Linked DNA regions of Homo sapiens. The protein of the gene in region 4 purifies or fractionates together with the protein of the main gene of each other region. This does not show direct contact. Each region holds a gene or a part of one and is shown on either strand. Other genes may lie near its edges. The genes, in order: PAIP1, EIF2S3, STAU1, IGF2BP3, HNRNPM, G3BP1 and RCC1L.

Region 1 (4,322 bases), on a different chromosome or scaffold from region 4:
TCTTAAAGTCTAAATACAATAGAATCTATTTTAAAAAAATAATTATGCTTAAGTATACTATATTTTAATGGTTATTTTCCTCAACTATACATTTTTCAGAACTAGTCTGTGAGTTAATACAATTTTCTGAAAATTTTTAGTACATAAACACTACCACATAGCACCATCAAATCAAAATGCCTTTTTTTTTTTTGAGACAGAATCTAGTTATGTCTCCCAAGCTGGAGTGCAGTGGCACGATCTCGGCTCACTGCAACCTCTGCCTTCCAAGTTCAAGCAATTCTTGTGCCTCAGCCTCCCGAGTAGCTGTGATTCTGTGATCCTGGCTAATTTTTGTACTTTTAGTAGAGACAGGGTTTCGCCATGTTGGCCAGGCTGGTCTTGAACTCTTGGCCTCAAGTGATCTGCCCTCCTCAGCCTCCCAAAGTGTTGGGATTACAGGCACGAGCCACTGCGCCTGGCCCCAAACACCATTCCTTCATGAGCTACTTTGTCTAATCTCCACCTATAAATTAGACACAGAAATTTCACGAAGTTAGTAACTGAAGAAAACTTACGGATCACCAGCCCCGGATAAATCTGTTCCATTTTCTTCATAATCTGGAAAAAAGTCCTCTCTTTCAAGTAATTCTTGGTATTTCTCTTGGTAATCTGTAAGACAACATAGGAGAAAAACTAAATACTGAAAAAATATCACATGAAATGACCAATCACCCCTAAATGTTTTTTAATATTATGACTTTTGCCCCCCTGCATGCTCAGAAATCTTAAAGTAATTACATATAGTACTATAGATATAAGTTGGAAATCAAAGCCACTGTAGGTGATGTACATTCATAGCCAATGTGTTTATATCCTCTACTGCTGCTTTCCATCAGACAAAATAATGGTTATATAACTGTTGGGGAAGAACAGTCCTTCCATTGGAAAGATATTAATCAAATACTACTGGTTTCCAGCTCCCTCTGTACTCCTCCACAAGGAAGTAAAGAAAGCAGGTAACAACAATTGGTCTCTGTTCCTCAGATGAAGTTAACCTACCAAAAGTTTTAACAATGGGGGATTTTCCTTCCCTTTCTTCCCAGAGAGATGGGGAAGGCAGCTACCTGGTAAACGTTTCAGCTCTGCCAACTTTCCTTTCATTGGGTCCTCCAAGGTAATACAGGTGATATTACACCTATCTGCCAATTGTCTTAGGAAGAGTTATTGGGTACCTTTTAAGTTAAGTATTTCTTTATGAAGTCCTAACCTCTGAATAAAAAAATGAATCAGTATATATTAAGACTAGTTACCTTATAGTTTCTTATGAACAGAAGCCAACGGAAATTTTGCAATTATATTAGACTGGGTAAAAGCCATGTTCTTCCAAGACTGTGTCAGTCTGTATAAAACCGTAACTCCAGCTTCAAGGGCTGGGGACATTTTGATACCCAATTTTGACAATTTAGAGACCGTTTTAACAGTAAAACCTTCCTGCTACAAAAAGACAGGCATTCTTTTAAATGTATGGATAAGTTCACAAAAAAGAAAATCCAAGTCATCAGGTCACAAATGAAGAAGGAACTGAAAGCCATATATAAACTGCAGCTGCTGCAGCTGGGAGGCTGACAGATGATGTTGGTCTCGGTAACTAAGGGGCTTGGATTTTAAAACCCACAGAAAGCCAGAAAGCAAGGTCTTGGGCCCCATGTGAAACAGGAAAATGAAATCCATGCTCCATGCCCAACCTCACCTGCACAAACCTGGGACCCTCAAAGGTCTGGTATCTTAAACAAAAGGTGAATCAGGAAAAAAGACCAAGAAATATCTCAGTGGTATTTTATCTTCCCTGCGAGATAGCAGGAAGCTTGGTCATGTCTGCCTGGGTTTGGAATAGGGACAGAGCACTTTGTAGAAATTGGTGCCCCAGAGAATTTTTAACAATGGGCCTGCACCTCAAATTCCTACTACCCACATAAAGAACCCCTATGACAAGAAAACAAAAAATTTGTCCAAGTCAGTGATACCTACTCTGTGGCTCCTGGCAGAAGGAAATATAAACCATTTTGGACAGAGGTTCCTATAATCCAAGCCACAGTGTTTTTCATTAAAAAAAAAATGAAAAAAGAAAAAAGAAAAAAGACAAAGCACTGAAGCATTTAATCAGGGTCATATTAATATGAAACTTCAAATGGTTTAAGAAAAAAAAAAAAAGTGTGTGGACAAGGTCAGGAAGTCAAGACCAGCCTGACCAACATGGTGAAACCCTGTCTCAATAAAAAAAAAAAAAAAATACAAAATTAGCCAGGCGTGGTGGCACAGGCCTGTAATCCCAGCTACTTGGGAGGCTGAGGCAGGAGAATTGCTTGAACTCAGGAGGTGGAGGTTGCAGTAAGCCGAGGTTGCATCACCGCACCCCAGCCTGGGTAACAGAGTGAGACTCTGTCTCAAAAAAAAAAAAAAAAAAAAAGAGAAAAAAAGAAAAGTGTGTGGAAAGAGCACAAATGATAAAGCAAGTAACTGTTAACAAAAAGTACACCTGGGTAAAAGGTATTCCTTGTACAATTTTACTTTTGTAACTTTTCTGTAAGTTTGAAATCATTTCCAAATAAAAGTTTAAGACGGTTAAGGCAAAAATTTTATGTGTGATGATCAGAAATAACAGAAGGGTTATAATTAAGAGATAAAACAAAAATATAAGACAGAAGTAAGCATGTTTAGAATGATGAGAAAAAATAACTTGAAACTCTGAGAAAAGGTCAAGATTATTTGAACAAAATGCAGAAACAAAATTTAGCTTGATTTTTCTGTAAAACTGTAAGATTTCTTTTACTTTCATGAAGTATAGCAGATTAAAAAACGTTTAAGAAAAAGAAACTGAGATCTACTGGCTGTCTACATTACTTCTTTTCCTTGAAAAGAAACTGAACAACCAAACTGAATTTCTGTAAATCGAACAGTACTAGAAACAATTAAACAGGTTAGAAAAAATAAAAAACAAATAATCAAAATAAATCAAGGTAATTTTTAAGAATAAGAGGAAAGATTTGTCTTACCAGACATAGCAAGATTCACAGTAAGGTAAAAATAATTTAAGTGTAGTATTGGCATAGAAAGAGATTAACAGAAAAAAAGATTCACACAAACACAGGAATAAGACACAATTTGATAGAAGAGTTACATAGTATACAACAAAGGGGGCTTATTATAACTAGGAAAGGAAGGATGGCTTAATACCAATTGTTGAGACAACAGGCAATGGAAAAGATAATTCCTATGATATCATCCTATATAAAAATTGCACTGGTAGATTAAAGACCTAAAAATAAAAAAGAACAATGATTTTTAGAAGAAAACAGAAATGGTAAGGAAACTTTCTTAAACCACAGAAATTACAAACAAGACTGATAAATTTTGTTCACATTAAAACTCAAAGGTTCTACATGACATTATAAACAAAATGCAAAGACAGGCAAATACTGAGAGAAAGAAGGTAACCAAAACCCTCAGCTAAGAATCACTTTGTTCTAGACTACAAAAGGAATTACAGATCAGTAAGACAGACAAATGATCCAACAGAAATATGAACAAAGAGTATTAGCAGGCAATTCTCAAAGAAAGAAATCAAAAAGGTCAACAAGAACAAGAAAACTTCAATATCACTTGTCAGGGAAATAAAATATCAGCAAGATAGAATTTCATACAATCTGATGGACAAAAATTAAGTTTAATAAAAAGTATTGCCAAAGATGAGGAGCAGGAACCCTCATGTGCTGCTGATGGGAAGATTAAGTGGCATAATCATGCTAGAAAACAATTTAGTAACATTTAGTGAAGTTTAAGATGCCCATAGCGTGTAACTTAATTCTACTTCCTTGCCCTAAAAAAACTTCTCTGTGCTAGAGACACAGGACAGTCAATGCTTGGAATCCAGAGGAAACAAATGGAAAAATTCCAACCATAAGCTGGTTGCAGTTTGTACCAAAGGGAAAAATTTCTCTTCCTCACTCTACAGTTCCATCTAATACAATTAAGGCAATCTTTCTATAAATGGTCCTCTTCTGGAAGAGGAAATGTGCAGAGATTTGGATTTTAATTAACTGTCACACACCAAGTATGAATGAAATGTGTAATTCTTCGTGTAAAGTATTAACCCATATTAATATATGTTGCTGACTATGCAGTGAACTAGAATCGTCTTTCCCCTCCATTCTAATCACCTGAAAATTTAAGATTATAAAAAAGTTAGAGGAAATATAAAATTAAAATAGTTGCATTTAATTGAGAATTCTTCCCATCCTCTGTTGTTAAGTGACAAGACATTATATGTGGAATCATACTTT
Region 2 (4,322 bases), on a different chromosome or scaffold from region 4:
GGTGGTAGCAGTGGAAGTGATCAGAACTAAAAAGATTTTGAAAATATCTTGACAGTAGAGCCAAGAGGATTTACATATGCAATATACTTTTTTTTTTTTTTTTGAGATGGAGTCTTGTTCTTGTCACCCAGGCTGGAGTGCAATGGTGTGACCTCAGCTCACTGCAACCTCCACCTCCTGGGTTCAAGCGATTCCCCTGCCTCAGCCTCCAGAGTAGCTGGGATTACAGGCACCTGCCACCACACCCGGCTAACTTTTGTATTTTTAGTAGAGACAGGGTTTCGCCATGTTGGCCAGGCTGGTCTCGAACTCCTGACCTCATGATCCGCCCACCTCAGCCTCCCAAAGTGCTGGGATTACAGGCGTGAGCCACCACACCTGGCTGTAATGTACTTTCATGAGAAACATTACAGGCACATTCTCAACTAGGTACATCTCTTGCTAAGAATCACTGCTCTGGCTTCAAGTTCTATTAAAATAAGGTCCATTTACTTCCTATCTGTATATGCCCATTACACTCAGTACAGTGCTTTACAAATTTGCTAATTCATGTGGATGTCTGAAATTAATTATAATAGAATTCTGGTTTCAAATCTTACATGAGATTAATTACAATGTCTATATTTTAAGTCTTATTCCAAAATTTCTGGTAGAAGGTACCTACAAAACACATGGGGACATGTTAGATATAAAATTAGTTTGATTTAGAATTGTTTTATTTGTGTTCCTCATGCTACAACACAACCTTCAAAGTCAGCGAAGTTTATAACATTAATATGCTTCCTCAAAACATCAATTTAGGCAACCCATAGCCAGAGCTTCTAAACTTCTACAATGCAACTTCAACATTCACAAGAGCACAATATGCTTCAAATCCCATCTCAATGCAAATTTAAGAAAAGCAAAGCAAATTGTATTATCAGTCTACCAAAACTCAGTAAGATTCTGTAATTTAATATACCTACTTCTCAACTCTCTAAATTTGTTTCTCAACACTGGGGAGTTTTTAAAGATATCAATGCCTGAATTCTACTCCAAGCCAATTAAATCAGAACAATTAAAATCAGAATCTCTGTGGGGCATCTTTTTTTTTTTTAAAGCTTCCCCAGCAACGTCAGCAAGAGTTGCAAATCACTGCTCAACAGAACCTCTTACGAAGCAAAAACATAAAGAAAAATAAGCCGGGCAGAGTGGCTCACGCCTGTAATCCCAGCACTTTGGAAGGCAGAGGCGGGCGGATCACCTGAGGTTAGGAGTTCAAGACCAGCCTGGGCAACATGGTGAAACCCCATCTCTACTAAAAATACAAAAATTAGCCGGGTATGGTGGCAAGTGCCTGTAATATCAGCTACATGGGAGGCTGAAGCACGAGAATCACTTGAATCAGGGAGGCAGAGGTTGCAGCGAGCCAAGATCGTGCCACTGTACTCTAGCCTAGGTGACGGAGTGAGCCTCCGTCTCAAAAAAAAAAAGGAAAAGCACACGAAGTATAGGGACATGGGGAATAAGTTAAAAATCAAAAGGACTCACTCATTGCTTTCTAACATCTTTTACTTCTTGACCTTTTGAAACATCCAAAAATTAGTAGTAGTATAATCTATGTCACAATCATAATATAACAGTTAAGAAAAAACATAAAATGAAGGCCTAAAAAGATCTTTGTTACTCATCTAGAATTATTTGGTATAACAGTATTTTCCCATGGAGGAAGACTTGGATTTCAGGCATTAAACAACGCAGAAAAAAATCTCAAGGCATCACAGGGAGAGGGAGATAACTTTTGACTCTGGTTTCCCGTGTTTCAGGCCAGGAAGAGCAAGGGGAGAAAAATATTTGTCCATGGGAACAAGTAATCATGCTCTAAAGGACAATTTCATTCGAATCCATTCATTTCCTTTTCATGCAAAATTTCAAAGATAAAGCAACATAAAATATGGGGCCACATAAAAGGGAGAAGGTCTTCAAGGAGAATTTGTGCCTTTAAGTTTTTACTGGTACAACAGTCTTTCAGCCTGGAGGTACTCAAAGACGAATCATGAAAAAGAAAAAAAACTTTATTTCAAACAGGTTCAGTGATATATGTGTGTGCTACAGCAAAGGCTGGTTGTGGCAAAGTTTCATTTCAAACTGTATGATGTGGGCTGGGCAAGGTGGCTCACGCCTGTAATCCCAGCACTTTGTGAGGCCGAGGTGGGCTGATCACCCTGAGGTCAGGAGAGACCGGCCTAGCCAACATGCTGAAACCCCGTCTCTACTAATAATACAAAAATTAGCCAAGTGTGGTGGCGCGCACCTGTAATCTCAGCTACTCGGGAGGCTGAGGCAGGAGAATCGCTTGAACCCGGGGGGCAGAGGTTGCAGATCACGCCACTGCACTCCAGCCTGGGTGACAGAGCCAGACTCAAAAACAAAACAAAATAAAACAAACAAAAAAACAGAACTGCATGATGTATAATTTTGACATTATGTGGGAATGTTTAACTTCTGCCAAAATGTAGATTCAATCCAACATTATGCCAATTTTTATATTAATTTTAGTCCCTAAGTTTTCATAACCAAAAAAAAAAAAAAAAAAAAAGAGAATAACCTTACCGTTACCTACTAAGGTAACGAACTGTGAAATCAATTCCCCAATATTGCTTTGAAAATAAACCCCTTGGTTGTTAAGAGGAATTCCAACTTCCAAATCCATCCGAATGTATTATTTAACTGGTATTCTTCAGTCATCATCTACTGTTGGCTTGATTGTCACTCCTCTTCTTATCTGACCCCAACCAATTAAACTGCAAAATGAAAATAAAAGAAATCATAAATCTTACATCCACTTCACTCTCATTACCACACAATCTTGTGATAAATTTTACCTGCTTATCTTCTGAATTCAAATTTGTTCCCAAAGCCTGCTCCTCCATAAAGAAAGCCCACACTATATTCTTAGATTCTTTTTTATTCTTGCTTTTGTGTGTTTTTTCTGAGACAGTCTCACTCTGTCACCCAGTCTGGAGTGCGGTGGTACGATCTCGGCTCACTGCAACCTCTGGCTCCTGGGTTCAAACAATTCTCATGCCTCAGCCTCCCGAGTAGCTGGGACTACAGGCATGCGCCACCATGCCCGGCTGATTTTTTGGTATTTTTAGTAGAGATGGGGTTTCACTATGTCGGCCAGGCTGGTTGCGAACTCCTGGCCTCAAGTGATCCGCCCACCTCGGCCTCACAAAGTGCTGGGCTTACAGGCATGAGCCACCGTGCCTGGACTGAAAGTTTATTGCTTAAATCTATTTCAAAATACACTGGAAGTCGTGTGTCTGTAATAGCAAAAAAATATAATCACAAAAGACAGTAAAATCAAAAGGGCATAAGTCACCACAAATAATTATTTACTTAAGAGACAACAAAAATTTAACTTTCTAAATTACAGGGCAATAATTCAGATAAATCTCCTGGACAAGTGATGAGACCATCGTGGGCACAGTAGCATGGAAGCCTTAATAAAGGAAACAGGGCTGGGCGGGGTGGCTCATGTCTGTAATCCCAACACTTTGAGAGGCTGAGGTGGGAGGATGGCTTGAGGCCAGGAGTTTGAGATCATGCTGGGCAACACAGTGAGACCAAGTGTCTACAAAAAACAAAAAAATTAGCTGATCACGGTGGTGTGAGCCAATAGTCCTAGCTACTTAGACACTGAGGCTGCAGTGAGCTATGATCATGCCACTAAACTCCAGCCTGGTCAACAGAGAGACCCTGCCTCTAAAAAATATAAAATAAATAATTAAGGAAGTAGATAGTGGGTAGGGGTGATGTGAATAATTATGGGGACAGTTAGGGCACAAAACAGTCTAATTTAGAGGGTTTATATAAGACAATGCAGAAGGAAAGCTTAAATGGGTTGAAGCAGGTTTCTAGAAAAGTCCCAAATATCAAAAAGTAGTGAGAAGACTCTAGAAATTATTAAACACAGCATGATGAAAATGTTTTAAGAAGACTAATTTTGACCAAGTTAAGAGGCAAACTAGGAGTCTTTCGCACTAACTGTGAAGTGTAAAGTGATGGTGGTATGGACTGTGATGAGGTGACGAGGAATGGAAAGCAAGGGGCAAACTCAATAACCTGGGAAAGAGCAAAAAGTCAGGAGCCAAAAATGTGTGTATGCTTCCTGGCTCTATGCTCTCAAAAGACCTAGAAGCAACAGCACCCTAAGAGCCATGAGCACACCTGAACACTCAGCTTTTCATTTATAAGAGAAATGGCCAGTTCTAAAACTGGAACAGAGAAGGTACAAGATGAGTCTGGAAGATTTTGTGCCAGAAAATAAGGAAATGTTC
Region 3 (4,322 bases), on a different chromosome or scaffold from region 4:
AATCCAGGAGTTCAAGACCAGTCTGAGCAACATGATGAAACCCTGTCTCTACAAAAAATTAAAATATCAGCCAGGTATGGTGGCTTGTACCTGTAGCCCGAGCTACAAGGCTGAGATGGGAGGATTGAGCCTTGGAAGGTCAAGGCTGCAGTGAGCTGTGATCATGCCACTGCACTCAGCCTGGGCGACAGACCCTGTCTCAACAACAACAAAAAAGGAACGTAAAAAGAAAAATTCGTGTCTGCCAGAAGTGGTAAGCAGGACCTCAGCAAAAGCCATGGCTGACCTTCTTCTTTCCCATCACTGAATGGTCCTGGTGAGATAAACTTGAAATCAGGCCTGATTCATTCATGTCTGCCAGTCATATTGACAGAAACAGCATCAGTCATGGCCAGTTAATAACTGACTGGGACCCCAGATACCACCAGTATAGATCTTAGACTTGGCTTTAGGGTTTTTCATTTCAGAATCTTGTAGGACATTCAGAGTGTCCTTTGTTACTTCTTAGAAAGGTGATGTTGTGTTAGACAAAATTCTTAGGTAATAACATTTTCCCCGTAAGGGTGTTAATTTTGGAATGTCACCTTATTTTTTAATTGGATATCAGCTCCAGGAAATATTCTTGATTTATTTGTTTAGCTTCAGTCTGAAAGCTTCTTTCCCCACCTTGGTGGGCTCTACCGTCTAGCATCTCTGCTCTTTCTGGTTAAATGCTTCCCGTCTTCCTGTGGGTGCAGAGTGCAGCTCAGCATTCACAGGTTAGTGCACTTTGTTAGATGCTCTTTGTGGGCAGGGGTGTGGGCAGGAGGGTGCATTAGGAGAAGGAGGCAGGCTCTGCCCAGGTGTCTGTCAGGGTGCCAGTGGTCAGGTGGGGCAGGGTTTTTCTGCCGATTGCCACAGTTATTGCTGACTGGACTTTGTGTAGATTTAGACAGCAGGAGCTAATTTTTCAGTGATCTGATTTATGCTCATGGCCTTTTTTTTTTCTTCTTCTTTTTTAAGACACCCATAAAGAAACCAGGGGATGGAAGAAAAGTAACCTTTTTTGAACCTGGCTCTGGGGATGAAAATGGGACTAGTAAGTGTGATCTTAATATCGTCTTCCTCTGAACGTGATTCTGGGATTTGCATGGGTCCTGAATAACAGCAGGAGCCCAGCCAGTGAGGTCCCGCATGCAAAGTGTCTTTATCATTCCCTGATTCCCTGCGCTGCCATGCGTGCCAAGGGGAGGGCCAGCGTGGGGTTTGATGGTGTCATTGCGTTTTTCCAGGCTGTGGATGTGGATTCGTGTTTACCGTGTATGTCCCTCCCAGGTAATAAAGAGGATGAGTTCAGGATGCCTTATCTAAGTCATCAGCAGCTGCCTGCTGGAATTCTTCCCATGGTGCCCGAGGTCGCCCAGGCTGTAGGAGTTAGTCAAGGACATCACACCAAAGATTTTACCAGGGCAGCTCCGAATCCTGCCAAGGCCACGGTAACTGCCATGATAGCCCGAGAGTTGTTGTATGGGGGCACCTCGCCCACAGCCGAGACCATTTTAAAGAATAACATCTCTTCAGGCCACGTACCCCATGGACCTCTCACGAGACCCTCTGAGCAACTGGACTATCTTTCCAGAGTCCAGGGATTCCAGGTAACTGTCTGGCCTGAGCTGTGATGGCTGTGCCTCAGGACAGTCATCTTTTGGCTTCTCTCAGAAAATGAACTTTGAACTTTGTACTTTTTTCTTAAATCAAGTTCTGTCCAGGGATGGGCTGGGGAGCAGTGATGGAAGGGTAGGAGGTATAGAAGTATTGTAAGCATATGTGGTAAGAGAAATATCTTTATCCTTTGGTAGTAAGATTTCAACATGCAAGCCAACCCTAAAAGCTTCTAACCACTAGCAGTGGTTGTAAATTTGGATTTCAAAGAACAGACTCATCGTGCTGACACTTTCTGTCTGGTAGGAAAGGATATGGCTTCTCCCAGTCTTGGGCTTCTGAGCAGACACCTAGGTTCCTGGAAGGTTCTGGGCTGACAGGGCAGGTGTTAGTATGGCCACAGTGGGGCTGAGTTGGAAAAAAGAGCTGGTGATCTTGCTTGTGGGGCCTGGAGCTGCAGCCCTCCAGCCCACTCATACTTGCTGTTCCCTACCTAGCCTCAGCTCTCTTTTCCCCCTTAGGTTGAATACAAAGACTTCCCCAAAAACAACAAGAACGAATTTGTATCTCTTATCAATTGCTCCTCTCAGCCACCTCTGATCAGCCATGGTATCGGCAAGGATGTGGAGTCCTGCCATGATATGGTACGTCACACCTTGGGTGAGGGATTGGGGTGTTGTGTGTTTATGTGGAGCCTGCCTTGGTTCAGCTTGTTACTAGCCTGAGGAAGATGGGAGAAAGATTGTCCCATAGACCTTGAGAGCAATGAATCGTTTGATAGTGTTCATATTTTTGAAGACTTTTTGTCATAGCTGATTGGATCGATTTCTCACTCTTGATCAGAACTCATCAGCTTTAGCCCACCTTTCCCTTCCTTTTCCCTGCTGGCCTGGAGGGGCAACTGGGATCCTGCAGCTCACCCAGAGACTGCACTCACTTCATCTCTCACCAGAACAAGGAATTGCAGGTCCACGTTCTGGCAGCTGTAAAAACCACTTGCTTTGGTCTTCTGTTCAGATGAAATTATTGTTATAAGAAAACTGAGAAAAGGAATTGATCAGATCAACAAATCTAAGTAAACTGTGATGTATTCACTTGATGGGATGTCATGCATGCATGAAATTAATGTCTCTGGGTGGGGTGTGGTGGCTCACACTAATCCCAGCACTGCGGGAGGCTGAGGCAGGCGGATCACCTGAGCTCAGGAGTTCAAGACCAGCCTGGCCAACGTGGTGAAACCCCATCTCTACTAAAAATACAAAAAAAAATTAGCCAGGTGTGGTGGTGGGTGCCTGTAATCCCAGCTACTTGGGAGGCCAAGGCAGGAGAATCGCTTGAACCCGGGAGGTGGAGGTTGCAGTGAGCCAAGATTGCACTACTGCACTCCAGCCTGGGCAGCTGGGTGAGACTGCGTTTCAAAACAAAACAGTGTCTCCGAAGATAATGTAATAAGAAGAAAAATACATGATAGGCCGGGTGTGGAGGCTCACACCTGTAATTCCAGCACTTTGGGAGGCCAAGGTGGAAGGATCGCTTGAGCCTAGGAGTTTGAGACCAGCCTGGGCAACTTAGTGAGACCCTGTCTCTATAGAAAGAAAAATACATGATAGATTTTTGTTAGAAAGCAGGATATAACATTTATACAGTCTGGTTACCACATGGTTAAAAATACTAGAAGGAAAAATATAACATTTTCAGAGGTTATGATTCAGTGAGGTAACTGAATATTTTTTAATTTGTATTTTAAATTAAAAATTCAAAGTTTTATTTAGTAGTACCAGAGTTGAAGAAGTTGCCACCTGTTTGCTGGGCAGCAGGAACTCTCTTGCCTGCCTGACCAGTGTATTATGCTGTGGTCCCAAGCGGTGGCTGTGGCTTTACCCTTCTTTCCATCCCCACTAGGCTGCGCTGAACATCTTAAAGTTGCTGTCTGAGTTGGACCAACAAAGTACAGAGATGCCAAGAACAGGAAACGGACCAATGTCTGTGTGAGTGCACTGATGAAGGGGAAGGCGCTGATGATGGGGAGGCTGCCCCTCGTTTGTGTTGAGTTTACACTATCTGCTGACTCAGCGGGGAAATATTTGCCTGAGTTACTTTCTGGCCCTTTTGCCTGAAAGTTTTCCAGATTCTCTGGGCAGAAAGCTCTACTTTTAAAAGACATTTTGAGGCTGGGAACAGCGGCTCACACCTGTAATCCCAGCACTTTGGGTGGCCAAGGCAGGTGGATCATGAGGTGTCAGGTGTTTAAGACCAGCCTGGCCAAGATGGTGAAACCCTGTCTCTACTAAAAATACAAAAATTAGCCAGGTGTGGTGGCAGGCACCTGTAATCCCAGCTACTTGGGAGGCCGAGGCAGAGAACTGCTTAAAACCTGGGAGGCGGAGGTTGCAGTGAGCCGACATAGCGCCACTGCACTCCAGCCTGGGCGACAGAGCAAGACTCCGTCCCAAAAAAAAACAAAAAAACCTTTTTGAGTTGGTCATACCTTCACATGGTCAGAACTCTGCATTATTTTACAAGGTACAATCTTCCCCTCGGACAGCCCCCATCCCATCCCTCCTATTCTCCCCACCGCCTCCCCCATAGATCACATTTTTACTAGTTTCTCCTGTATCTTTCCTGTATGTTTCTTTATACAAATATAGACATATATTTCTTCCCTCATTTTCTTCCTTTCC
Region 4 (4,322 bases):
AAGTTTTATCAGGAGAACGTTAAATGCCCTTTATAAATATAGGACAATCCTCTCACACAAAGTGATCTGAAAGAGATGCATTACTTTCACTAATAGCTGGCACCAACACTCAGACAGGAAACAAAAGGCAATCTTCTCCAAACCTTGGTCAAGATGGTCCTGCTTTTTATAAATTAGCCAAAATTCGGGGACTTGGAACTCCTAAGTACCTTTCAACGCTTTCCCTTTCATACCACTGCACAGGTTTTGCTGAAGTACTTGCCGTTTTGCCTCCTTTTCCAATAACTCTGCCAGCAGCAAAGGATGGCACTCTGATATGAGCTTCAAGTTTCACCTCTTCTTTAGGACTAACAAAGTTTTCTTCTTTAATTTTTCCATAAATTCTTCCCTGAGCCTGCAGATGAAAACACATCCTATTAGTGTCATTCATGTATGAAATGGAAAAGGTCAGTTAACTTGAAAGATGGCCCAAATCCAAGTGGGATAGCCCTTTGCAGTGATACATCTACATTTCATAGATTGTTGAAAATAACATAGAAGAGAGCAGTTAGAAGTCCTAAAAGGTTGACAATAACTACTGCCCATCACAGTAGAGGCAACTGAATGCTTGGTGAAAGAAGGATAAACCATATTCTTCTGATGAAAACAGTTAAAGGCAATTAATAACCTAATAAAAACGAATTTTTGTGGGCAAATGGCCATTCGTACTAAAATTGTGATAGGTAAAACTTCTCATGCTGGCCATGAGACATCAGTTGCATTTTTCTTTCCTTTTTGTTGGAGTCAGGGTCCTCCTGTTGTCCAGGCTGGAGTGCAATGGTACAATCATAGCTCACTGCAGCTTCAACCTCCTGGGCTCAAGCGATCCTCCTACCTCAGCCTCCTGAGTAGCAGACTACAGGCATGCAACACCACACCTGACTTATTTTTTTTTTTTTTTTGAGACGGAGTCTTACTTTGTTGCCCAGGCTGGAGTGCAGTGGCACGATCTTGGGTCACTGCAACCCCCGCCTCCCAGGTTCAAGTGATTCTCCTGCCTCAGCCTCCTGAGTAGCTGGGACTACAGGCACTAGCCACCACACCTGGCTAATTATTTTTGCATTTTTAGTAGGCATGGGGTTTCACCATGTTGGTCAGGCTGGTCTCGAACTCCTGACTTCAAGTGATGTGCCCACCTCAGCCTTCCAAAAGTGCTAGAATTACAGGTGTGAGCCACTGCGCCACTAATTTTTATAGAGATGGGGGTCTTGCTATGTTGCCACGCTCATCACAAACTCCTGGGCTCAAGAGTCCTGCCTTGGCCTCCCAAAGTGTTGGTATTACCAGTGCAAGCCACCACACCTGGTCACATTTTTTTTGAGCAAAAGAGACAGAACTGCAGAGTCAGCTATGCCAAGCTCACTAAAAGTCAAGCTCACATCTACATGGGCCAGTTAGAAACCTGCTGAGAAAAATGTTTTCAATTTAAATGTGTTTCATACTCTTAGAAAGGTGGTTTTTCCTTTGAATATTTTAAAGAGGCTACAACATCAAGGTAAGACACTTTTTTCTTTTTTGAGACAGAGTCTCACCCTGTCATGCAGGCTGAAGTGCAATGGCATGGTTTCGGCTTACTGCAACCTCCGACCCCCGGGTTCAAGCCATTCTCCTGCCTCAGCCTCCCAAACTAGCTGGGATTACAGGTGCCCGCCACCACACCCAGCTAATTTTTTGTTGTTATTTTAGTTGAGACGGGGATTCACCATGTTGGCCAGGCTGGTCTTGAACTCCTGACCTCAGGTGATCCACCCACCTTGGCTTCCCAAAGTGTTGGGATTATGGGCATGAGCCACTCACTGTGCCCTGCCTTTTATTTTTTTTTATTTTTTTATTTTATTTTTTTTAGAGACAGAGTCTCTTTCTCTGTGGTGCGATCTCAGCACACTGCAACCTCTGTCTCCTGGGTTCAAGTGACTCTCCTGCCTCAGCCTCCTAAGTAGCTGGGATTACAGGCATCCACCACCATGCCTGGCTAATTTTTGTATTTTTAGTAGAGATGGAGTTTTGCCATGTAGGCCAGGCTGGTCTGGAACTCCTGGACTCAAGTGATCTACCCACCTAGGCCTCTCAAAGTGCTGGGATAGCAAGCGTGGGCCACCGCGCCTGGCCAAGACACTTCTGATATTTAGAGTCAATACATCCTATCACCTACTGCATGCAACTATATAAACAACCTATTATATATAAACAACCTATTACATACAGCAAAGCAGAAAGGAGCCTGAGAGTTGGTTTGACAAGCTGCCAGGGTAAACCACAAAAAACAATAGTACCCAACACGCGTTCACTGATTCAGAAAGCTGAGCTCATTTTAGGGCACTACCGACAAAACAAAATTCATCTTGATACCCTATATTCCAATGATCCTTAATGCCTCAGGCCAATGACGTAGATATTACTATTACTTAAGACAGTCAAAAAGACACTAGGGATATACACTATCCTCCAAAACTGAAGCTCTTGAATTTGTAAGGAAAAATACGGGGTAGGTGGTTTACCATTCCTTAGATCTCTAAAGTAAAACATTCATTTAGCATTGTCACCAATCACATAAATAAAATTTAACTACTATGGCTTAAGTGTTACATTTAAGTTAACTATAAAACATGAGTTTTATTAGTGAATACAGGGAAAGAACTTTGAAGTTCCTATCATACAAACATCATAGGAGTTGCAGGACAGTAATTCTACTTATAAGACTAAAAGCTCAGCACCAAGGAAAGACATGTTTGTATTTATCTTTTAAGATTTCAAACTAAAAGTGACCCTGAGAGTTTGGGATAGGAAGCAGTTTTCAACAATTCTGAGTTAAGATTTGAACTGCCTGGATCACAAGGCTGCTGTGAAGGAATAAATTTCTTCACATGATTTTCTTTCTTCACCTAACCACCCACATCTCAAAGCACCTCCTTCGTTTCCCATTCTTCACATAAGTGAAAGCAGCTTTGGGTTTTTAGTGAAAAAATGGCCCAGAGAAAATAGAAGTCAAAGAAAGTGATTTTTTTTGTTTGATTTAAGGGAGAGAGGTGGGGTGGGGAGAGAACTGTATGCACTGTTACTAGTTACTGTTACACTTTAAGGCTAAAAAAACTAAGGCTTGGCCAGGAGCACAGTGGCTGATGCCTGTAATCCCAGCACTTTGGGAGGCTAAGGTGGGCGGATCACTTGAGGTCAGGAGTTTGAGTGTGTGGCCAACATGGTGAAACCCCATCTCTACTAAAAATAAATTGGCTGGGCGTGGCGGCACATGCCTGTAATCCCAGCTACTCGGGAGGCGGAGGCAGGAGAATCGCTTGAACCCAGGAGGTGGAGTTTGCAGTGAGCTGAGATCACGCCACTGCAGTCCAGCCTGGGCGACAGAGTGAGACTCTGTCTCAAAAAAAAAAAAAAAAAAAAGAGAAAAAAAAAACTACAGCTTAAGGTTAAATAGTTGTCTTCTTACACAGCCACTAAATGTTCTAAGACAAGACACCCATACTAAATTTTGTGGGAGAAATCATACACTAAAAGGAATATATTTATGAATTTGGCATGGTCTTAGTCTGATTCATCCATAGTCTGTTGAATACCCCCAGCACGCTAATTTTGTGCTGCCCATGTGTTAGGCACTTTTCTAAACATTTCATATATTGTGTAAACCTTAAACTACCTTAGGATGTAGGTGCTCTTATCCCTGGTTTTACAGAAAAAGGTTAAGTAACTTGCCCAATGTCATACAAGGCAAATGGCAGAGCTAGGATTTGAACTAGCAGCCTGGCTGCCAAGTCTCAGCTCTACCATCTCTCAGTAGACATTGAAAGGCACACTGCAGCCCCAAAGACCTCAAATCCCACTAAACGTGCAATGGTTCATACCAGAACAAATGCTACAAGAGCTCCTGCCATTCCTATCTCTAAGATCCCAGGGATTAGAGAGATTTGTAGAGTCTATGGGCAGGGTCTAACAGAGATAATCCAAGGGTAAGGAAAAAGGGGGCATTTTAATTCAAGTCTAGGCAATCTCAGGGACAGGAGGGAAAACATCTGAAAACAAGTTTCCAAGGCATATTAACCTGGCAGGTTTGTAAATTTTAAGGTCTCACCTTAGCATAGGATTACAAACCATTAAGCAAAATTAACCTTTGAGAGACAGGTAAATCCAGCAACCAGTACAGAACTCTTAAAATTAAAGACTTTTGGTTAATTTCGAAATATAATTTTGAGTGTGATTCTACTCAGCTCTTAGATAAGAATTTCCATTGACTCTTTCTGAGATTTAGACATATTTAAGGGAGACGCCAGGTT
Region 5 (4,322 bases), on a different chromosome or scaffold from region 4:
ATGCTGGTCAAGTGGGAAGGAGTCCCTGTTCTCAGCTGTAGAGGGTGTGGGGAGCACTCCGAGTGCCGTATCTCAGAACATCTAAGAACAGTCTAGGAAAACACACTCCATTTGTGGTTCTCCAGAGAATCAGCACTTGGAATCCTTTGCCACCGCGTACCCCAGGCTCTGAATCCTGACTGCGAGATTACACCTGCCAGTTCACCATCGACTGTGTCACACGGCTCAGCACAGCTCCCAGGCCAACCCATCCTGATTTCCATCTACTTCTAAACTGCATCACTCTACTCCTCACAGCAACAACTCAAATTCCCTAATGACTAATCTGTTCTTAAAAAAAAAAAAAAAAAAAAAAAAGAGAGAGATGGGGTTTCGCAGTGTTGCCTAGGCTGATCTTGAACTCCTGAGCTCAAGCAATCCTCTTACCCCAGCCTCCCAAAGTGTTGGGATTACAGGCGTGAGCCAGCACACCCAGACTAATCTGCTCTGAGTAACATTTTACCAAGCCAGATTTCTGAAACTTTTTTTAAAAATTAAAATCCCATGCACACACAAGTTACAGGCAAGCTTGAATGTACACTGGAAACGCAGACCTCTGTTGCTTTATTACTAATGGTGACAACTTTCCTACATCCTTTTACCAGCTTCTAGAACAAGGCACCCATGAAGAGGGCAACACACATCATGCCCCACTGCTCCCTGTGCACCGGAAGAAGGGCCTGATCATCAGGGACAGCCGCCTTTCAAGCCTGACAATGATGTCTGTCCTTGTACCATTTTCACATCCTTTGTTATGGCAGACCCGCAAAGGAAGGTTTATACCTAAATCCCTAATGACTTCTCAGTCCAAGAAAGTTTCTGTGTAAAAAAGCAGCAGCTTTCCTGCAGTGAAGGGGAAGGTCAAAGAGTCACCAACACATAAAGGATTTCAAAAAGGAAAATTTACAATTTCTCATGCACACTCTACAGCCCTGCTGGTGCCCTGGGCCAAGTGCTGTGCTGGAGGCACTTCTAAAAGGCAGGATTCCCACATGATGAAGTGCCAGGCTCTGGAGCCAGACAGCCTGGGTTCACATGCAGGCACCACTGTTTACCAGTCACTTGACCTAGGCATGTCACTCTCTGTGCCTCAGTTTCAGATGAAACAAGGATAGCAGTATGTACATATCATGTGGTTCTCACAAGGACTAAATGAAATACTACATTGTTATTATATTATTATATTTCTGCTAAAAAGTTGGGGGCAGGTGCCGAGCACGGTGGCTCACGCCTGTAATCCCAGCACTTTGGGAGGCTGAGGCGGGCGGATCACATGAAGTCAGGAGTTCGAGGCCAGCCTGGCCAACATGGTGAAACTCCGACTCTACTAAACATATAAAAATTATCCAGGCATGGTGGCACACACCTGTAATACCAGCTACTCAGGAGGCTGGGGCAGGAGAATCACTTGAACCTGGGAGGCGGAGGTTGCAGTGAGCCAAGATCGCACCATTGCACTCCAGCCTAGGTGACAGAGTGAGACCCTGTCTCAAAAAAAAAAAAAAAAAAGTTGGTGGAGGATTTGAATTATACTAAACCAGAATTTGCATTATGTAAATGCTAAATTAAAAGAGCCTGTGATTTTTATTAACGCCTCTATAGACAACTTGTAGCTGGGGCAGATGACCAAGAACAACCCTTTGCAGCACTCCCAGAGACAAACTTGATTACAAACTTTAAAGAATCCCTCATACTCGGAGACCATAACCACGAACGTGTACATGCTTTTTAACACTGTACTCGAAAATTACTGCAGAGCTTGGGAACACAGGACATCTCAAAAGACTAGCGACCAAGTGAAGTAAGTCTACTATTATGTCTAGTTTTTGAAATATTTAAGGCAATTCAAAAGACATTTGATTCGGTTGAAAAGCAGAAGTGAGAAACCACTTATTCAGTGGGTCTGCAGCCTAAAAGTCACCTGAGAGGCAACAGCCGGCAAAGGGTGAGTGAAAGCAGGAAGAAAACACGATGCTTACCATTTATCCTGCCCATGTTCATCCCAGATCCAAATCGACCCATGTTTTCCATACCACCACCAAAGGGCCCCTCCATTCCTGCAAGAGAGGTTCACATTTCAGCATCATCCAACAAGACTGCTTAGACTAAGCAGGGAAAGAAAAATTCTATCACATGTTTCAACTGGGGTATCTTCTGCCAAGAACTTACCAAGTTTAAAGGCTTTTGAAAAACAAAAAAAATGCTAGCACCCTTGTTTAAAAATCACCCATCTTCAAAAAGCTGGTCTGATCCAACCCCCTCAATGAATAGACAAGCAAAAAGAGGCATAGAGATGGAGTGGTCTGCCCAAGGTCACAGAGCTAGTTAGTGAGACAGCCAGAACCAAAAGCCAAGACACCCGCTGGAAGGATGGACAGGCAGGAGGAAGTCATTTCTAGACTCAAACTGAAACCAAAGAGAATTTCATGCAGGGTTTAAACAAGAAAGAAAAGAGGAAAGAGAGAAAACTATGCCTAAAAGTGATTATGCTTGTACTTCATTTTAAATTTCTTACCTCCCATTTTATTTATTCCAAATCCTATGCCTTCCATTCCCATTCCTTAAAAAGAAAAAGTCAATGCAAACTAAAATTATGTCAAAGCAGTAAATAACGTTTGAACTTAAAAAGCATAATTCCAAACCAGCAAAAGAACTCAAAAGAAAATCCCTGATGACAAGTATATTTTATATATTTTAATCAGCAAGAAAAAAAGCCCTTACCATTTCAACTGTCAAATATCATATAGCTATTTTTTTTTTTTTTAAACACAGTATTGCTCTGTCACCCAGGCTGGAATGCAATGGCACAATCTTGGCTCACTGCAACCTCCACCTCCCGGGTTCAAGCAATTCTCCTGCCTCAGCCTCCCGACTAGCTGAGATTACAGGCGCCTGCTACCACGCCTGGCTAATCTTTTTCTGAGGGATCTACATACTTTAATGACCCAGTCGGGCAGGGTTTTTGTGTTTTTTTTGTTTTTGAGACAGGGTCTCCTTCTGTCACTGGGGCTGGAATGCAGTGGCATGGTCACAGCTCCCTACAGCCTCAACATCCCAGGCTCAAGTGATCCTCTTGCCTCAGCCTCCCAAGTAGCTGGGACTACGCCACCACACCTGGCTGATTTTTTTTATATTTTGTAGAGATGGAGTCTATGTCGCCTAGACTAGTCTCAAACCCTCGGCCTCCAAATTGCTGGGATTACAGGCATAAGCCACCACACCAGGCCTCAAGTTAGGCAGTATTAAACATGAAATAGAATTATAAGACACATTCTATGGAACATAAACTTTTTAGAAAATTTTAGGGAACAGAAGTAGATTTTTTTTAAGAATCCCTGTTAAGGGTGGGCGTGGTGACTCACGCCTGTAATCCCAGCACTTCAGGAAGCCGAGGCGGGTGGATCACCTGAGGTCAGGAGTTCCAGCCCGGCCTGACCAACATGGTGAAACCCTGTCTCTACTAAATACAAAAAATTAGCTGGGTGTGGTGGCACATGCCTGTAATCCCAGCTACTTGGGAGGCTGAGGCAGGAGAATCACTTGAACCCAGGAGGCAGAGATTGAGTGCGGTAAGCTGAGATTGAGCCACTGCACTCCAGCCTGGGCAACAAGAGCAAAATTCCGTCTCAATAAATCAATCCCTGTTAAAGGTAAAATCTTCAAAATAAAAACCAGTTCCTAAAAACACCAAGACTTCCTCCCCAACCCCCAGTCTTTCTGTTTAGATGTCAGACATGGGGTGTGTGTGTTTTGGGTCGGGGGAAACGTTAACAGCCATTTGAAGTTGTGGCCCAGAATTTAAGTCAGCCCCAGGGTGACTCTGGAAGAGAGTCTAGGGATATGCAACACTGACAATGGTGGGATAGAGGGGCTTCCATATTCCAATTTCAAAGGATTCCAACAAAGACCAAAGTCTAAGGTCATAAAAATGACATATTCCTTAATAGAATCAAAATACATCATTACACAGCAATGAAAATGCTAAACAGCAAAGCCTGAGTTTATTCTACACATCAAAGCTTTCATGCAGGTTTTTTTTTTTTTTTTTTTTCTGGAGACGGACTCTCGCTCTGTTGCCAGGCTGAAGTGCAGTCATGTGATCTCAGCTCACTGCAACCTCCGCCTCCCGGGTTCAAGCAATTCTCCTGCCTCAGCCTCTTGAGTAACTGGGATTACAGGCGTGCGCCACCACGCCCGGCTAATTGTTTTATTTTTAGTAGAGATGGGGTTTCACCATGTTGGCCAGGATGGTCTCAAACTCCTGACCTTGTGATCCGCCCACC
Region 6 (3,916 bases), on a different chromosome or scaffold from region 4:
ACAAAATGGACAATTCCCTCACAAGAAAAATCATTAAAAACCATCTTATACCCTTCTCTTCCGTCCTATATGTCAGTTCTGTTTCTACATTGATTTGGGTTGGTTTTTTTTTTTTGAGCCAGAGTCTCAGTATGTCGCCCATGATGCAGTGCAGTGGCACAATCATGACTCACTGCAGCCTCAACCTCCGGGACTCAAGCAATCCTCCCACCTCAGCTTCCTAAGTAGCTAGGACTACAGATGCATGCCACAAGGCCCAGCTAATTTCTTATTTTTTGTAGAGACAGGGTCTCACTATGTTGCCCAGACTGGTTTCAAACTCCTAGGCTCCAGTGATCAGCTGGCTTCAGCCTCCTAAAGTGCTGGGATTACAGGCATGAGCCACACTGCACCTGACCAGTTTTCACATTCTCTAAACCTCTGTTGAATCAAATTACCACAATAGAAGTAAATTTGCCTAATGTACAAGTTTTATTAGGACCTTACCTGTGAAGCTGGTACTTTAACAACATGAGGTGGTATCCCAGTAACTGGAACAGCTCCACTGGGTGGAAGATTCTTACTGGTCACAGATGCCCAAGAAAATGTCTAAGGGAGCAATACCAACATTACATAATTATACCAGGTATCAAAACAATATAAAAGCTACTAACTCTTGATTTCCTGTACAGAACAAACGGTAACACATTCTCATAGGCAGGATGGAGTTTATATATATATATTAAGATTCTTCTCTTTCAGCTATTCAAAATTTAGTACTGAAATTCCTTGGGACTGATGATCAAGTACCAAGCAAATCCGAGAGGCTTAGGTTCAAGAAACTACTCACTTTTTTTTTTGAGACAGAATCTTGCTCTGTTGCCCAGGCTGGAATGCAGTGGCATGCACACAGCTCATTGCAGCCTACATCTCCTGTGCTCAAGTGATCCTCCCACCTGTTTCCCAAGCAGCTGAAACTACAGGCATGTGCCACCATGTCCAGCTATTTTTTCTTTTTAGTAGAGATGAAGTCTCACTATATTGACCAGGCTGGTCTTGAACTCCTAAACTCAAGCAATCCTCCTGGCCTCAGCCTCCCAAAGTGCTGGGATTAAATGCGTAAGCCACAACGCCTGGCCCAACAAAAGCTACTTTCATTCAAATCTGTGAATCAAACAAAATTCCCTCTCCTCCAAAATCAGCTCAGCTCTTCCTACTGTGATTCCATCCAATCCATTGTACAAACATCGACTCAATTACATCAATTGTAGAATCATCATAAACACCTTTCTCGCACATTTAAAAATCGCCAGAACCTGTTATTCTACCTAATTATTTCTTTTCCATTTCCACTGCCACAACTCTAATTCAAGCCATCATTCTCTCTCACTAGGGTTACTATAATAACCAACTAAGTGGTCAGCTGGTCCAGCCAACCTACTTTTCCACTTGCTTCTTATGGTTTTGTTCTTGTGACAAGGTCTTACTCTATTACCCAGGCTGGAATGCAGTGGCATAATCATAGCTCACTGCAGCCTTGACTTCCCAGGCTAAGCCATCCTCCTACCTCAGCCTCCCAAGCAGGTGGGACCACACATAGGCACCACCATGCCCAGCTAATTTTTTCCACTTGCAAGCTAAAGTCATTTCAACATTGCTCTTTCCTACTCACCTATTAGCTGCCAGAGAACAAGAACCCCTATCTGTTTTGCCAATATAAAACCTACACTTTGAACAATGCCTAACACACAGCAGGAATTTGAATTATTGAACAAACAAATGACATAACCCTGAGCCTATAAACACAGCACTAAAAATTATATTCCTTTCCAGAGCACCAAATGCAAAGGTTTCAACGATAGTTCAGTTAACAATCACCCTGACGAGACTCAGAAGGACAAACTGAAAACTTCTGAAATCAGGTATGCCAACTAGAAAAGAAGTTTTACTTCAGCAGTTCATTTCTACTTCCACTATAAAGTTATCTTCAATAAAATTTCATAGAAAAAGTATATTCTGCCATGTTATTTTTCTTGAAAAGATGTTATGCACTTGTAGTAACAAGTATGTAATAATTTATAGTGTAAAAGATTAAATATTAAATAGAAAAGGAATCACTGATAGGGTGCTACAGTGGCACCTAAAATTTCTGGTCTAACAGGCATTCAAGTTACCTCGGGGAAGGGAGTGGTTTCTTTTGATGAAATAAACTAATACACATCTTACCTCTCTCTTATCAAACATATGGCTCAATATCTAAGAAATTTCCCTGAAATGAACCACCAATATGAAAATGTATCTACAAGTCAACCAAACAGCAATACAAAAGAACAGAAACTTTTTTTAAAAAAAATAACTAGGAATAGAATAAAAATGAAGACACGTTTCATACCCTCAAGTCTTCCTGTACTGTCTGAGCTATGTCTGCAGGTGCTGGAGAAGAACTCTTCTGAGCATCCTCAGGGGCAGTTTCTTCTAATACTGGCTCAGGCTTTTCCTCTTGGATTTCAGATACAGGTTCTTGTTCTGGTTCTGGTTCAGGATCAGGCTCTGGTTCAGCAACAGGCTCCTCTAAATGTTCTTCCATGTCATTACTTTGACAGGAAAATTTGAGAAATATCATTCTGCCACCATTTATTTCACAAAAAATTCCTCCATCATTTATTAATCAGAAACCAGAACACAGAGTTAGCTCCTTCTATCCAAAACAAAAATCTAAGAATTGTATATCTATCTGAGTTTTTAAAAAGTAATTTTTAAAATGCCACTCAATAACTTAACTGGAATCCATTTGTTTGGCAAATTCTGATAAGCAAATGAATCAGGACATCAAAATGAACCAAACCACTTTATGGCTGGAATCCCACAACTATTACAATTCATTTAGCATACAACATCAGAAAAACTCTCAAAATAGGCTGGGGCGGGGGGGGCGGGAAAGAAAGTTGCCATTCAATGGGTATAGTCTGTTTATAAGGTATATAAAGTTATCTTCAATAAAAGTTGTAAGGTGAAAAGTCCTAGATATCTGTCATAGAACCACATCTATACAGTTAACACTACTGTACTTTACACTTAAAAATGGTTAAGATGAAAAAAAGGTTAAGATGGCAAATTTTATGATATGTGGCTTTTAACACAAACACACAAAAACTCTTTCAAGCACATAAGGAATTTGGGGGAGAAAATAGTTATGATTCAGAATACAATTCTTAAAATTCCACATAAATCAACCAGAAATGCTGTTAAAACTGCAGAGGGGGCTGGGCACACACCTGTAATCCCAGCACTTTGCGAGGCCAAGGTGGGCAGATCACCTGAGATTAGGAGTTCCAGACCAGCCTGGCCAATATGGCGAAACCCCATCTCTACAAAAACACAAAACTTAGCCGGGCATGGTGGCGTGCGCCTGTAGTCCCAGCTACTCAGGAGGCTGAGGCAGGGGGATTGCTTGAATCCAGGAAGCGGAGGTTGCAGTCAGCCAAGATCGCGCCACTGCACTCCAGCCTGGGTAACAGAGCAAGACTCTGTCTCAATAGAACAAAAACAAACAAAACTGCAGATGTTTTGCCTCCTGAAAGTCTAATTCGGTAGGTTTGCAGTGGGACCATGAATCTTCATTTTCAACCAGCAACCCAAGTGAGTAACCTGATTAGTTCATCACACCTTAAGAAACACTTGAAAACACCCTTCAGGCACTGAATATTAACATTCAGTATCACATGGTAACAAGTAAATATGGATTTCTATTGCTATCAAACACATTTCTGTTCTAATCACAAGGGGGAAAAAACCCAAAGGTATAATGATGCACTTACTAACGTAATGAAATTCTTTATTGCTACTTAACTCACATATTGGTATTTATATCAATTTATGCCCGATCTCTAATTAAATAGGTCTCTGTCCACTTCATATTCCCTCAAAGCATTTAATA
Region 7 (4,322 bases), about 52 Mb from region 4:
AAATAGACTTTATTCCAAGACAGATTTGTAAAAGATGTTTTTAAAGGGAAAGGCAAGTCACGCTACTAAATCAAACATTGTTCACAATTTCTGGATCTTCCTCCTCCGCCTGGCACTGCAGCTGAGCCTTGGCGGATATGCTCGGGGCCCTCGGCGCAGAGGAACTTGGCCTCGATTCTCTTCCTGAGGGGCTTCTTAACTTTTCCAAGCCAGGCAGTGAGCGTGGTGGGAGGCTGGGGCTGGTGCCTGCGGACAGCTCCAGATGGAATCCCAGGCCACGGTGCTTCTAGTGTCCCCCCAGCGAGCTTGCGGTGTGGCAGGCGGCCAGGAAGGGCCATGAGCAGGGTGGCCTGAATGAAAACCGAGGGCCGAAGCCAGCCTGACTCCCTCGCCTAAGCTGGGGCTCGGTCCGAGGCACACGCATGGCCTTGGCCAGACACAAACCAAGAGACTGCCATGACAGACAGAGCAGAAACCTCCCGAGCACTGTGTTCAAGCTAAGCTTTCCTAAGACGGGCTTCTCAGGCGAGACGTGACACCAGACACCGTCGCATGTTACTTGGAGAGAACAGAGACGTGCGGGCCACAGCGGCCCACCAAAGGCTGCCATCCAAGCTGAGTTCCGCAGGCCTCACCTGCAGCTGGAGAGGGACCTTGCCCTGATCCTCCTGGTAGGTACCCGCTAAGGGATTCAGGACAGAGCGTCACACTGCACGCAGGGTCCTCCGCCACCACCATCCAAGAACCCCGGGGGGCTGGCCACGCGCTGGCCTCTGCCAAGGAGTGCCAGTGGTTCCCGGGACGGGGCCGCCCAAGCAGGTGAGGGAGGTTTAGATGAATGACTTGGCCAGGGTCACCATGTGGTCCACGCCACATGCCACGTCCACAGGCTCCCCAGGCATCGTCACCTGAAAAATAAGATCCAGCATACCATGGGTGGGGGTGGCGCACCCGGAGGAGACAGGCGCTGGTGTTGGCCGACCCGGCCCTGCCTCTCAGTAGGAGACTCAGTAGGAGACAGCTTGTCTCAGCAGGAGACAGCTTGTCTCAGTAGGAGACAGCTTCTCTGAGCCTCGGCTCCCTACCCTCTGGGAATGGGGGCACTTAGGCCTCCCCAGCAGGTCCATCAGGACAACTGCGTGTGGTCATGAGGACAAGGCCATCCCAACTCCCTCCAGTCAATGGCAGCCATCACCATTCACATCAGCCTGAGAGGGCATGTCGGGCAGGAACATGGGCCTGTGTGCATCCCTGGAACCTGCACGCCCTACAGGGGCTGCTCCCCTCTGACCCTAACCCCACTAGGCTCCATGCCCCCAGGCCAGGTGTTCAGAGATCTCTCCTGGGAGCCACTGCTATGGCTCACTAAGAAGCTCCAGGGGCTGGGCGCTGTAGCTCACGCCCATAATCTCAGCACTTTGGGAGGCCAAGGCAGGCGGATCACGTGAGGTCAGAAGTTTGAGACCAGCCAGGCGTGGTGGCAGGCGCCTGTAATCCCAGCTACTCGGGAGGCTGAGGTGGGAGAATTGCTTGAACCCAGGAGGTAGAGGCTGCAGTGAGCCAAGATTGCACCACTACACTCCAGCCTGGGTGACAGAGCGAGACTCTGTCTCAAAAACAAGCTCCAGAAACCCTGTCTCTTGCCTTGCAGGTCCAGTCTGGGAATCAGGCCCCACTGGCCCAACATCTCCACTCATCTTACCCGTCACCCCCAGCTCCAGTCACAGGCAGGCTGCGTCCCAAGTCACGACCACCAAGCAGGGGCAGTGGCTGTGTCTCAAAGACCCTTGCCAGGAGCCCTGATCACACTGCCTGTCTGGGCTGACAACATGGCATCAGAGGACAGCCCAAGCTTCAAGGGAGCAAGAAGATGGCCTCACTGAGACATGGAGGCTCTAGCCTGTTGGAAGGGCGCCCACTGTTCTATAGCCTCGCCATGGAAACGGACACCCTCAACAACTCCAGGTGTGCCCAGGGCCATAGCCAATCCAGCTATCCAGGAAAGGGGCACTCTGCTTTCTCTTTCTTGTTTATTATGACTAGGCAGTGCATTCACATAGCTGCAAGATAAAAGGACATTCAGTGAAAAAGAAGAAAAAGCTATTAAATGATTTTTATGCCGGGCGCAGTGGCTCACACCTGTAATCCCAGCACTTTGGGAGGCTGAGGTGGACTCCACTTGAGGTCAGGAGTTCAAGACCAGCCTGGCCAACATGGTGAAACCCTGTCTCTACTAAAAATACAAAAATTATCTGGGTGTGGTGGCGCACGCCTATAACCCCAGCTACTCGGGAGGCTGAGGCAGGAGAATCGCTTGAACCTGGGAGGTGGAGGTTGCAGTGAGCTGAGATCGCACCACTGCACTCCAGCCTGGGCGACAGAGCAAGACTCTGTCTCGAAAAAAAAAAAAAAAAAAAAAAAAGTCTTTCATTACCACACCTATCACCAGCTGCCCCAGTCCCCATCTGCCTCTGAACTGAAAACTACTTTTAACTGATTTCTTATTAACTTTCCAGAGGTTTGTTTTGTTTTTGTTTTAAGAGACAGGGTCTAGGCCAGGCGCAGTGGCTCACGCCTGTAATCCCAGCACTTTGGGAGGCCGCGGTGGGCAGGAGTTTGAGACCAGCCTGGCCAACATGGTGAAACCCCGTCTCTACTAAAAATGCAAAAATTAGCTGGGCATGGTGGCAGGCGCCTGTAATCCCAGCTACTCAGGAGGCTAAAGTAGGAGAATTGCTTGAACTCAGGAGACAGAGGTTGCAGTGAGCCGAGATCACGCCATTGCACTCCAGCCTGAGCAACAGAGCAAGACTCTGGCTCAGAAACAAAAAAGAGGCAGAGTCTCACTTTGTTGCCCAGGCTGGAGTCTAGTGGTGCAATCACTGCAGGCTTAACCTCCTGGGCTCAAGTGATTTTCCCGCCTTAGCCTCCCAAGTAGCTGGGACTACAGGCACGTGCCACCATGCCTGGCTAATTTTGTTTGTTTGTTTGTAGAGACAGAGGTCTCACTATGTTGCCGAGGCTGGATTATAGAGACACAATCATAGCTCGCACTACAATGTCGAACTCCTGGGCTCAAGCTATCCTCCCACCTCACCCTCCCAAGTAGCTAGGACTACTGGCATGCACCACTATGCTCAGCTTATTTTTGTATTTTTTGTAGAGACAGGGTCTTGCCATGTTGCCCAGGCTGGTCTCGAACTCCTGGGCTCAAGTGATTCTCCTGCTTCAGCCTCCCGAAGTGCTGGGATTCCAGGTGTGATCCCCAGGCCTGGCCTTCCAGAGGTTCTTTATGCAAAGAAGCAGATATGCATCTCTCTTTTTTTTTTTTTTGAGACGGAGTCTCGCTCTGTCACCAGGCTAGAGTGCAGTGGCGCAATCTCAGTTCACTGCAACCTCCGACTCCCTGGTTCAAGCGATTCTCCTGCCTCAGCCTCCCAAGTAGCTGGGATTACAGGCATGCAGTACCATGCCCAGCTAATTTTTGTATTTTTCGTAGAGATGGGGTTTCACCATGTTGGCTAGGATGGTCTTGATCTTCTGACCTCGTGAGCCACCTGCCTTGGCCTCCCAAAGCGCTGGGATTACAGGCGTGAGCCGCTGCACCTGGCCTTCTCTTCCTTTCTTAAGTGCCAACTGCAAAGAAAGTGACCCTGCCTGGCTTGGCCGGAAGACCCCTGCCAGGATGCTGGCACTTGATCTACTGACCAGATCCGAATTCGACCACCCTCCCCTGGTGGCAGCATGCAGCCAGGTGGTGTGACAGCTGGAAAGGGGATCTGTCACAGTCTGTGGAGTTTACCGAGCTTAAGAGGGAAACCGCCTAATCCAGATGGCCTGGCCCTAAAAGCCGAGAGGCGGCAGGCGCCGACCCCGGAGCTTTGCACCTACGCCAGGAGACAAGACCATTAGGGACTCCTGGCCACAGCAGATGGATGCTAGAAACCAAGTCATGCTGTCATCCCCCAGCCCTGTCCCTAAACAAATGAATGTCTTTAGCAGAACCTATTACAGGAATCACTAAACAAACAAGAACGGGGCCCAGTGAATCGCAAAGGCACGTCGATGCAGAAAGCCTGAGAGGCTGGCCGGAGAAGAAAACAGGCTGCCTCTGCAGGGACTGGGCCCCGACCGCCTCTTAGCAACCTCCCCAGCCATTAGGGAGCACTTTATTTACCTTTCCCGGGACAGTGCGCTTCCTCACGGCTGCACTTAAGCCCCCAGGTCCTTGCTCCCCGAGGGCTCTGGCCATTCAAGCCCAAAGCAAAGGAAGCCACGATGGTCTCTGCTGCGGGTGGCCTGGGCAGCAAGGGCCCGGCTCC

What was found.
Region 1: the proteins of IGF2BP3 (region 4) and PAIP1 purify together in Homo sapiens (co-immunoprecipitation; 2 studies listed by BioGRID and IntAct, with this or other methods). This does not show direct contact.
Region 2: the proteins of IGF2BP3 (region 4) and EIF2S3 purify together in Homo sapiens (affinity purification with mass spectrometry; 2 studies listed by BioGRID and IntAct, with this or other methods). This does not show direct contact.
Region 3: the proteins of IGF2BP3 (region 4) and STAU1 purify together in Homo sapiens (affinity purification with mass spectrometry; 2 studies listed by BioGRID). This does not show direct contact.
Region 5: the proteins of IGF2BP3 (region 4) and HNRNPM purify together in Homo sapiens (affinity purification with mass spectrometry; 2 studies listed by BioGRID, with this or other methods). This does not show direct contact.
Region 6: the proteins of IGF2BP3 (region 4) and G3BP1 purify together in Homo sapiens (affinity purification with mass spectrometry; 2 studies listed by BioGRID). This does not show direct contact.
Region 7: the proteins of IGF2BP3 (region 4) and RCC1L purify together in Homo sapiens (co-immunoprecipitation; 2 studies listed by BioGRID and IntAct, with this or other methods). This does not show direct contact.

The regions. Positions count from the first base shown.
Region 1 is NC_000005.10:43,529,229-43,533,550, forward strand, and holds part of PAIP1 (polyadenylate-binding protein-interacting protein 1), read right to left. Parts: intron 652-4,322; coding exon 558-651; intron 1-557. UniProt on the Homo sapiens protein: Acts as a coactivator in the regulation of translation initiation of poly(A)-containing mRNAs. Its stimulatory activity on translation is mediated via its action on PABPC1. Competes with PAIP2 for binding to PABPC1.
Region 2 is NC_000023.11:24,075,183-24,079,504, reverse strand, and holds the end of EIF2S3 (eukaryotic translation initiation factor 2 subunit 3), read right to left. Parts: intron 2,784-4,322; coding exon 2,720-2,783; 3' UTR 695-2,719; downstream 1-694. UniProt on the Homo sapiens protein: Member of the eIF2 complex that functions in the early steps of protein synthesis by forming a ternary complex with GTP and initiator tRNA.
Region 3 is NC_000020.11:49,115,089-49,119,410, reverse strand, and holds part of STAU1 (double-stranded RNA-binding protein Staufen homolog 1), read left to right. Parts: intron 1-1,002; coding exon 1,003-1,078; intron 1,079-1,314; coding exon 1,315-1,634; intron 1,635-2,162; coding exon 2,163-2,285; intron 2,286-3,543; coding exon 3,544-3,629; intron 3,630-4,322. UniProt on the Homo sapiens protein: Binds double-stranded RNA (regardless of the sequence) and tubulin.
Region 4 is NC_000007.14:23,313,260-23,317,581, forward strand, and holds part of IGF2BP3 (insulin-like growth factor 2 mRNA-binding protein 3), read right to left. Parts: intron 395-4,322; coding exon 263-394; coding exon of another isoform or gene 210-262; intron 1-209. UniProt on the Homo sapiens protein: RNA-binding factor that may recruit target transcripts to cytoplasmic protein-RNA complexes (mRNPs). This transcript 'caging' into mRNPs allows mRNA transport and transient storage.
Region 5 is NC_000019.10:8,471,941-8,476,262, reverse strand, and holds part of HNRNPM (heterogeneous nuclear ribonucleoprotein M), read right to left. Parts: intron 2,600-4,322; coding exon 2,555-2,599; intron 2,097-2,554; coding exon 2,019-2,096; intron 1-2,018. UniProt on the Homo sapiens protein: Pre-mRNA binding protein in vivo, binds avidly to poly(G) and poly(U) RNA homopolymers in vitro. Involved in splicing.
Region 6 is NC_000005.10:151,795,884-151,799,799, reverse strand, and holds part of G3BP1 (ras GTPase-activating protein-binding protein 1), read right to left. Parts: intron 2,574-3,916; coding exon 2,372-2,573; intron 589-2,371; coding exon 487-588; intron 1-486. UniProt on the Homo sapiens protein: Protein involved in various processes, such as stress granule formation and innate immunity. Plays an essential role in stress granule formation.
Region 7 is NC_000007.14:75,042,202-75,046,523, forward strand, and holds part of RCC1L (RCC1-like G exchanging factor-like protein), read right to left. Parts: intron 909-4,322; coding exon 831-908; 3' UTR 1-830. UniProt on the Homo sapiens protein: Guanine nucleotide exchange factor (GEF) for mitochondrial dynamin-related GTPase OPA1. Activates OPA1, by exchanging bound GDP for free GTP, and drives OPA1 and MFN1-dependent mitochondrial fusion. Plays an essential role in mitochondrial ribosome biogenesis.